Linked DNA regions of Homo sapiens: region 2 is linked to region 1. The links come from fine-mapping of genetic effects on gene expression. A gene starts in region 1. The other region holds a variant in brackets. All regions are shown on one strand. Distances are between the middles of the regions.

Region 1 (5,386 bases):
CAATAGCAGTAGGACACACCAATTAATAGTAACTTTTTATTTAATTAAATCTTGGATCTCTTGAAATCAATATACAAATGAATTATGTAAATATTTTGATTGAAATGTCGGGCACCTAAGAAAACAATGACAACTTTGGGTTCTTCTAAAGGTCCCAACATGACTATTCTGCTACCTTCATATTTAAAATATATATATATTTCTTATTAAAAACTGAAGTAAGTTTTACAACCTGTGATGTACCAGCTCCTTCAAAGAATTCTTTTTTCTTAGGAATTAATTTCATAATCACACCGAAGAATGGCTGTAATGGAAGAGTTAGATAAGAAGTAAAGATAAAGGCAGGTAGACCACAGTTGGCAGTGTAGCATTCCCAGTCAAACCTCTGGATTAGAAGACTGTATATAACTATCACATACTTGCTTCCAAAACATTACTCAGACCGAGAGTATAGCCCATAGCATCTACCACAAGCACAAGAATTGATCCTGACACTTTTGGTTCTCTATCTAGGAGTGGCTTTGAAATACATTTGAGTTCCAATTTACTGATGGCAAATCCTGATATGAAAAATTTGGAAATGAAAAACAATCCTCAGCATGTTACTTGGTGAAAAGAGAGCAGAGGAAAAGGACAGAGGCTAGAGATTGGCTCCTGCCTGCATTCGTGAATTTGTCTAAATCACTTAGCTTCTGAGCCTGGGTAAAATGAGGATGGTAATTACACTTGTCACCAGATAACGTGAATATTGCCCTTCAAACTCCTCAATGAAGCCTGCACTGTGGAACTGCAATGTCCTAGGACCGGGTTGCTCTTAGAACATTTTGTTCTAAGTGTATCCTAACAAGTGTAGCAAAACTGGAAGACACAAAATGTATTTCCTCCCCACAAGAATGAAAGCCTTCCTAACTCCAAATTTAGGCACAGCCTGTAAAAGATGTGACTAGTAAACACAGAAACCATTTGCTTTATAAGGTCTAAATTGTCCTCTTCTCCAGAGTTGTAGAAGCCAAGTCCAACACGGAGATCCCTACTTTTATTCAAGTTCCACCATTAGTCAACTCATGTCCAGGATGTCTTCTTTAATATATAAAATGGGGATACTTTTTTATATTATTATTCAACTTAAGAGACCACTGTGAAATTTCAGTGAGGTAACGTATGTGAAATGTTATACTCCATAAGTTCTTAAACACCTGAGTTTCATACCATGCTCTGAAGCAAGAGGCCAAGTCTGGTTCCTGGGTCCGCTTCCCCAATGGGCTTTTCCAAGCTGTAGGCTGAGTCTAAACTGTTTCCTCCCACATACCCTTCCCTCTGCGACACACTAACAACATCCCTTACTCCATCACTGTCTTCCTTACCCTCTCCTGATGAGCCTTCTTCCCCAGCCACCTTTAAGCTCCCATTAATGATATGTGTAACGAGTGTTCAATAGAGTGTGTGTGTGTATATTTAATGCCATTTATATGTTTTTTCTTGCTAAGTAATGCATCATAATTTTAGAAAATTGGGACTAGTCAGATAAAGCACCCGTTGGTTTAGAATCCCTGACTCAAAGTCAGATGTCCTGAGTTCTAGACTTGGTTTGTCTCCTTGTAAGTGCAAAAGTTTATTCCCAATTCCAGGTTGCTAGTGTAAACTTGAAGTTTGGCCCAAACAAAACCCCTATCAGATTTATTTAGAGTGTTGATGCCAAATGGAATTCTAGAAGCCCACCTTTGCCAGGGGCTGAGCCAGAACCACTATCACTGGGGGTACGGCCTGGGCATTTGTTCTGCGTTTTTTATAAGCCCCTCGGGTGACTGTCAGACAGGCCAACTGTTTCAGAAGCTCTGCTCCAGGCTCTAGATCACACGTTAAGTAGCAAGGATGGGGGTCTGGACCTCCAGTATTGGCATCCTCCGAGAGCTTGTTAGAAAGGATGTCTCCCTCATTATCCCAGGCCTACTGAATCTGAATCTTGCATCTCATCACAATCCGCAGGAGATTCTGTCACACACTGAGGGTTTGAGAAGCACTGCTGTACCTTGGTATCTTTAGATACCTACTGATACCTGGGTGGGCCCCACCCAGACATTGTCCTGTACTTGTTCTGGGATGCGTCCGGGGCAAAGGGTTCTTACAAGCTCCCCAAGTTATTTTAATGCACAGCCACAATAGAAGATCACTGTCCCCCAAATGGCAACCCTTTACGGTTAAGCTGTAACCTGAATTAAATTGGCTTTTGTGGGCTCCCCAGGGACCTTAAGGACCGCTTAAACGGTGCTGTTTAAAGGACAATGGGCTCCTGGGACAAGTTCAACCACAGAGCTTTGGGTTCATAAAATCAGGGCAGGGAAGACTTCCTGCATCCTCCCGCGAGCAAGCCAGGCCCCGCGCCGGTCCTCACCCGTGTGCACCCCCAGCCCGGCCCCGCCCGGCTCGCCCCCTCCCGCCCCGCGGCCCGCCCCTCCTCCCCCGTGACGTGCCGCTGCGGCCAGGATCATGCGCACTCGCGCCCCGCTCCCCGCGCGGCTGCTCCGCCTCGGCGCCTGTCATTCTCCGCGGCGCGGCGGCGAGTGCTGGCTGCGGTACCCTCCCGCTCGCTTGTCCGTCTGCGCGCCCGCGATGTGACCAGCCGACTGGGGGCGGGCTGGCGGCTCTGCCTGCGGCAGCGCATCGGTTTTTCTCCTGGCAGGTCCCTAATTGAGCCGTGATTCCCTTGGAGCCAGAGACACCCACCAGGGGCTCGGAGCGCCGCGCTCCGGGGCTGGAGGCAGCTGCAGCGCTCGGGTCCGCGCGGCCGGGTGCAGTAGCCTCAGTCCCAGCCGCCGCCTCGCTGAGTCGTGTGCCCTGGCGAATGCCCGGCGCCCGGCACAGCTGAGCCAAGGCGACTGGTGCAGAGCGGCGGCGCCTGGTCCTGCACTTGCCGCTGCTGCCGGGCTGTGCCGGGGCGGCGGCGCTGCGCGCCGGAGTTTGCAGAGGCTGCCTCCGAGCGCCGTCCGCCAGGAAGACTCCCTGCCTCCTGAGTCCCAGTAAGTTGACTGTAGTTTCTGAAGTTGGAGGGAGCCGTGGGAAGGAGAGGTTCGTTTTTATCTTCTTGTGGGAAGCCGAGGGTGGCACCTCTTGTTAACAGAGTTCCAGCTCGAGGAGGGAGTGCGGGGTGCCAAGAAGGGGACAAGGCAGCTGGAAGGTCTGGAGTCCAGGGCTGGCTGACCTCAGCATCTCACGAATGTGCCAGTTGGAAATATGCTGGGAGAGGACAGGTACTCCTAGGGCATTTCGACTGCTGCGTGCTAATTATTCATTCCAAGCTCCTTGACTCTGTGTTTACGTTGGGGTGAAGGGGCTGGGCAGGGTCTTGTCACCTCCATCCTAATTCCTCTGGGGAGTGTGGCCAGCACTGCGATGGATCTTTGGGCGAGCCATTTCTTTCAGGCCTGCAGGCTTCCCGCGCATCCCGCTTTACTCTTCCCCTAGGCAGAAGTTGCCAACCTTTTCATAATTGGAGCCTAGTCCTTTAGGGAAAAAACAACTTATATGTCGACCCGGTGTTTTATGCCCTAAGGCAAATAAAACGAGCTCTGGGCGTGTGAATTCATACACTTTAAGAATGTAGGCAAGTCTCAAGAAATAGGATTCAGATAATGACACTTGGATTTCACCCTGATTGTCCTGCACCTCTTATGTAAGCCTCCCGGCTGGATAACTTTATCTCTGCAGTGGCTGCAGCTGTGGCCCTCCATTCCATTTGTTTAAAGTCCAATTGAACAGTATTTACTGAAAATGCTGACATGATATAGCGGCCTGAAGTCTGAAACAGAGTGCACTCTTCAAATTGGAGTGTCTTCTCCTAATAGGGAGCATGGGAGGAACAACCCACTATATTTTTCAAGGCAGCTCCAGGAATTAGACCCATAAATCATGTTTTAAAATAGCATGCATTGTGCAGAGAGCATGCAGAGGACCGCTTTTTGAACACATCCCCTTTGTTTTAGAAAAAGTGGAAATTGTTCATGCCAGACAATTGTTGAGTCTAAAAGTTAAGTGTACTGATGGGCCTAATTATCTTAATAAACAAAGAGCATGATTTATAGGTAGCTGCAGTGCCCTACTTTGAAGGATAGAAATCTTTAACCTTTCTTTCTCAGCTGTTCCCGAGAGATTCCTTTTAAGCAGAGCTATGGATTATCATCATTGATGTTTAATACCTGAGTTGGTTAAACTTGTAAAAGGAATAGTACTTTGAAGTACCATGCAGTACTGCTGTGTGACTGTTACACAGCGAATATTATAAATAAGAGGAATATTTGGAGTATTGGGTATAGATGTCATTAGTTTAACAAAATAGGTCATATTAAGACTTTCCTGCTAAATATATATACACATACATAAATGTTTAATTTGGACTTGAAATTATTGTTTAAACCAAAGCTCAGGGGTATGTTTTAATGTAAGATTTATTTACATAATCTTTGAAGAGAGAAGTGCATTTATTTATGGTATTTCAGCATGCAGAACAAGATGAACTAGTTATAGGCACCTTATTTAAAGTGTAAAGGGTTTTTTTTTAGGAATACTAAGAAAATACACAAAATGTTATTTCAGAAGTTGAAAAGTTAGTCACATCAACACATTGCGGTTTGTGAGAGCATCCAGTGCTTATCTCTAGAAGAGATTACATCCAAGCATGGAATCTCAAACAGATTGACCCATTAAGCCCTATTGCAGCCTGGTTAGGAGGACAGGCTATGGAGCCAGGCTGCCAGCTCTGGTACCATCTGTTTGAATCTAGGCAAGTAACCCAAAGTCTGTGCCTCAGTGTCTTCATCTGTACAATGGGGATGACAGTAGTAGTACCTACCCCACTGAACAGTAGTGAGAATTAAATGAGTTCATAGACATAGAGCTGTTGGGCCAGTATCTGGCATATTAAGCTTGTTCTGGGAAAAATTTTCATTGTTATGAAAGGAAATGCATCTTTGGACTCTATGGACATTGAATTGCTGCTATGGACATTGAATTGCTGCTGATGAATATTAACAGAAGCAGTTCATGTGTATAATAGGAGAGAAGGTATAAACATTTATTGTGCACTGTCTAGCGATACAGACACCAACTGGTATTTAACACTGTCTTGCTCAATTCCCCACCACAGTCCTTTGAGGTAAGTGGCTTCATCTCTACTTTAGAGATGAGAAAATGGGAGCTCAGTGAGATCAAATAGTAGAAATTGGAGCTGGCATTTAACCCACGTCTGTCTGTGTTGAAACTGTGTTCTTTTTGACCCTGCTGCCTCAACTTGCAAATGAAGTAGTTGCATTATTATCCTCAATTTATACATGAAGAAATCTAAGCTTAAGGATTAAAGTATGCAAAGTGCTTAACAGCACCCACAACAGAA
Region 2 (5,386 bases), 24 kb before region 1:
AATTTTTAAATTAAAAACTAGTTTCCACAATGATGTGAGTAAAAAGGAGCCCTCATATCATACCCTCACATAAGTATAAATTGCTGCAACCCCTTATCGTCAAAATTTTGTCTGTCTATATACATACATATATATGTAAATATATATTTTTGCAGCACTATTTTCTATGGAAGAAAAATGCACAAATATGAAAAGATCATTTTCTTGAAAGATTGTTTTATTTTTTAATATAAAAGGTTGCAGAAAACAAACGGCTACATATATATGTAGTTGTGTGCACATACTATACACATTATATATATATATATATATATATATATATATATACACACACACATACTAAAGTGGTAATGTTACCTTTGGGGATGGGGGTTGTTGAAGGATTGTGTGATATTTATTTTCCATGGTAGAATTAAGGTTAATTTTAACTTCTGTGTGTGTGTTCATATTTTTCAAATTAAAAATACAAGCACACAAGCCATATTATATCTTTAAGAAGTATATACATATCATAAATTAGGGGGTCACACAGGCATAACTTGGGTACTGGCTTCACCACTGAATCATCTTAGATTCCCTAAACTTTTGTTTTCTCCAACATTAAAATAAGATAAGAACCTAAAATAAGTTTTTATCTTATGAAGTTGTAAGGATTAAGGAGATAATGCAGGATAATTTATGAAAATGATTGCTATAGTAACTGGTGCATTAAAAGTTTAATAAATATTAGATATTATTGTTATTATTGCACTCAAACTCCAAATTCATCCGGCCTATCAGATAAATGTTAATCCCTACCTGTTCCTAAACTAGTTAAGGTCCTTGTCTCCTTGTTCTTTTAGAAGTTTGCATTTGCTCTTACATTCCATCTAGTTCTCCCCTAAAAAAGCTGCACTTTTTTGCTTTGCCTCTCCGCTGGAAGGCTCTTGCCTGGGTCCCTATTTTCCTACATTCGTTCAGGTAAAACCACCCCCATCAGCCTCTACTCACCCACTTCAGCTTATCTCATTGGAATTCCATCTAGGCCAGAACTCAAAACCATTCCACCCCTACTGCCTCTCTGTCCTTTGCCTCCTAACTGAATTCCAAGTCTTGCTTATTTTTTATTTTAATTTCATGTGCAGGATGTGCAGGTTTGCTACAAAGGTAAATGTGTGCCATGGTGGTTTGCTGCACCTACCAACCCATCACATACGTATTAAGCCCACCATGCATTAGCTATTTTTCCTGATGCTCTCCCTTGCCCCGGGGCTCCCGTCCCCACCAGCAGGCCACAGTGTGTGTTGTTCCCCTCCCTGTGTCCATGTGGCCTCATTGTTCAGCTCTCACTAATAAGTGAGAACGTGCGGTGTTTGCTGTTCTGTTCCTGTGTTAGTCCGCTTAGGATAATGGCTTCTAGCCCCACCAATGTCCCTGCAAAAGACATGATCTCTTTCCTTTTTGTGGCTGCTGAAGTCTCGCTTTTTTAATGGAGATGGGCCCAGGCATCCCAGTATTTCCAAGAACAGCTTTTTCCTATGATAGCTATAACATGGAGAAAATTATTACTTTTCAAAAATTGCAAAGAAAGCATCAATGTCACCATAAAAATATTATGATCAGGTCCCATGATGGACACATCAGCTATATTTAGAGGACAAACGAAGAGATGGATTCTATTTTAGAAAATATTTTCATACTTCGAATGTGTTCCTTAAAATATTTAATGGGGCAGTTTCACTGGTAACTAGAACATAAAACTGAAGTCTCCCAATCCTTGCCGTCCATGGCAACTTAGGTGATCACAGGAACTGCCACTCTTCCCGAGTCTGCATGTGGACATTCTGTGCTCACAAGGGAAGAGCCAAGGAGGGATGTCAGGAAGAAGCGCTTTTTTAAAATCGGCAGAATTTTAATATTTTTGTTCTTCTGGACAAAGAATATTCTCTACAACTAATGGTTTATCCAACATTTATCTCAGGAACATCTGAGTTTTGTTAATTTTCTTAGAGGTAGTAACTGGACGATGTATAGACAAACATGTTTGCCTCCCGACTGTAGCAGAGAATAATCTCTTGAGAGGAAATAGTTCTTTTTACAGCAACAAAAAGCAAGAAAAGCAGAGCAATAAGATGATGCTGTTAGTAGTTTATGTCTCTTAAGACCTTAAAAGGTAATAATCATTCTACCTTCCATTTCCTTAGCGCCTGATGGTTTGCAAAGTACTTTCACATACATTATCTCACTCAAGGAAAAGAAATGCATATTCTATAAGGGCCATTCCTGAGAGAAAATGAAACATCAAGCAAACGAAAACTATTCCTCGATTGAATAATTCAGGGAGCTGCTCTATCAAAATAGTGAACCACTTCATGAGAAACAGAGGAGACAAAAAATCAAATCAAATCACCATCACTGGCATAAATATGAAATATATGGGGTCGACTAACTTTTTTTCATTATGTTCATGATTCAGGGACTATAATTTGTTTCATATTTGTCAAAATTGGAAATAAGATGATAAATAGATATCCTAGCTCTTAGGCACCCTGTGGAATTTCAATGTCTTGCCACCTAAGGCAAAATACACACACACACACACACACACACACACACACACACAGTTTGGCAGTGTAATGACTTTCTTTTGCCCTCTGATTCCATACAAATTTAACTCCCTGTCATGACACCTGCCCCACTGTTATTGTTGTGTACCTTTTGCTCCAGCCTGGCCAGGGTCTTCCTTTGACAAAAATGTGCACATTGCTGCTTCTTAGCCTCTGTTCCCCACACCATTCTTCATAGCTAAAATAATATTTCTTCCTCCAAGCACTTTGCCCAACTACCCTGAGCTACAATCTCCATTCTTTGTCTCTAATAATTCCTGTTTTTTATTCATTCACCCAATAACTATTTGATGAGAGCTGCCTATGCACAAGATATCAGGCTAGGTACTGGGAATAGAGCAATGAAAAAGACAAACGAGATCTCTCCTCTTAAGGAGCTGGGGACATTCTGGGAGGCGGGGACAGACAATAAATGCATTTTACACATTT[C/T]AGATGCTGCTAAGTACTATGAAGCTCTATAACAGGGTAATACAAGAAAGTGGCTGGAGAGGGGACAGATAGTTTAGGTTGGGGGGATAGTCAGGGAAGGCTTCACTGAGGAGGTGACATCTGAGCTGGGACCTGAATGACAAGAAGGAGCCAGCCCTGCAAAGATAGGGGGAACAGGAAGAAGGGCGGTGTGGCAGGAGGAGAGTAAGCACAGGGAAGCATGCTGAGAGGCATGAAGAGAGGAGCTGAGAGTCAGGCAAGAGTTAGATCCCGCATGGACTTTACCTTTTACTCCAGGTGCACCCAGACGCATGGGAGGGTTTTCTGCAGGAGAGTGGCAAGACAGGATTTGTGTTTTTTGAAAGATCTCTCTGACTACTGGTCAGAGAATGGACCATGAGGGTACAAAGTTAGAATGAGGCAGACCAGTTAAGAGGTTGTTGCAGGTCCAGGGGAGACAAAAGAGGTGGAGACTTTGTATGGGGAACATGGAGAAAAGTTGGCAGATATGGGGTCTATTTTGTACATTAAGCCATTCAGACTCATGGGTAAGTTAAATGCAGCAGGGGAAAGAAGTTCGATGTCATATTCTACTGTGTCATAATTAAACAATCTCACGTGTGTTTGTACATGTATTTCAACTGAACTATAATTACTTTGCAATCAGAAATTAGTCATATTCTTCTACTCTTTTTTTTACTCAGCTACAGAAATGAGGATGGCTCATTGTAGAAATGAGCGTGCAATAAAGACTTGCTAACTTGAATCCAATTAATATTTCTACTTCTATTGTGGGTCCAAAGTCGTCTAGTTCAACTAATCATGGCAAAGCCAAGTGTCTCCCTTCCATTTTCTTTACTGCATCCTGCCATCTGTCCTTTCACCTCCTGCTACTTTTCAGTCACTGTAATTCTCCCTGTGATTCCTTCGCAATCGCCCTCTGAGTATCAGATTTCTGCTTCCTCGCTCACTGCACGCCACAGTTAGTTCTGTGCAGCTTGCTCCAGCCATTTACTCTGTGCCCACTCCCTGTCAGGCCCTCGGCTGGGTGATGGGGACCCAAAGGTAAACATCAGCAGACGTGAGAAGAAACTTCACAGTTTAATCTTCACACGAGAACTAGGAGGGAGAATCCTGGACCACACAGGTACCACACGAGAACTAGGAGGGAGAATCCTGGACCACACAGGTACCACACGAGAACTAGGAGGGAGAATCCTGGACCACACAGGTACCACACGAGAACTAGGAGGGAGAATCCTGGACCACACAGGTACCACACGAGAACTAGGAGGGAGAATCCTGGACCACACAGGTACCACACGAGAACTAGGAGGGAGAATCCTGGACCACACAGGTACCACACGAGAACTAGGAGGGAGAATCCTGGACCACACAGGTACCACACGAGAACTAGGAGGGAGAATCCTGGACCACACAGGTACCACACGAGAACTAGGAGGGAGAATCCTGGACCACACAGGTACCACACGAGAACTAGGAGGGAGAATCCTGGACCACACAGGTACCACACGAGAACTAGGAGGGAGAATCCTGGACCACACAGGTACACGTAAGAAAGAAAGGGAAGAATTACACAGGAAAACACGGATTTGATTCTCTCCTTTAGAGCTGGGCTCCCAAAGAGTTCCATAAAAGGGAAGACATCTTTGCTTCCCTGCCCCTTATCTCTCAAGCCTTCTGGACACTCTGTTTCAAGTTCCAGGAAAGGAAATCTTCGGCCTCTCCTTGAGAAGCAAAGAGAATTCAGTGACAATGTGTACAGAAATGTCTCTGACTTTCCTTAGATGATTCCATCTTTCTTCCTGCAACTCACCTCCTCACAAACAAACGTCCTCTCCTGCATTTGGGTTAATTTATTTTCAGTAAACACTCATCAAATGACCACCACTAAGCACAAGACCTAGCAGGGTCCTAGAAATATAGTTTCTGTCTTCTAGATCTTTGAAGGAAAGACATAAAATAAAGTAAAGTGAAATTCACACCAAGTAGACATCTGAACCACACGGTATTTGAACACAAAAGTGATGCATTCTGAATAGATGGCTCAAGAAAGACACCTGCCTGGATATGGAAAGGAGGGTAGTATTTTGAGAGGCTCAGGAGAGTATGGAGGTATAGGAACAGAGTGAGCAAAAGCTCAGAGGCTTCACACTGCATTCAAACTCCAGATTATGGTGCGAAGTTGTCTGTGGCTGGAAAATAGAAATTAGGGAGAAATACTCTAAAAATAGAGGTGTAAATGAAGCCAAGGTCAAGCTTTCAGAAACCTTCAATGCATGTTGCAGCATTATTTTCTGGCCAAAAAGGAGTTACTGAAGGCTTTTGGA

The links.
Region 2: its variant is fine-mapped to the expression of PAG1 in whole blood (TOPMed, PIP 0.99).

What each region holds. Positions count from the first base shown.
Region 1 is chr8:81,109,222-81,114,607 of GRCh38, reverse strand. It overlaps PAG1 (phosphoprotein membrane anchor with glycosphingolipid microdomains 1), which reads left to right and starts at 2,540. Exons shown (of 9, transcript NM_018440.4): 1 at 2,540-3,017. RefSeq lists a silencer at 2,405-2,534 and an enhancer at 3,025-3,094.
Region 2 is chr8:81,133,190-81,138,575 of GRCh38, reverse strand. No RefSeq gene overlaps it. Among named protein-coding and RNA genes, the nearest start is that of PAG1, 24 kb to the right of the region's middle. The variant C/T (reference allele first, on the strand shown) is at 3,036.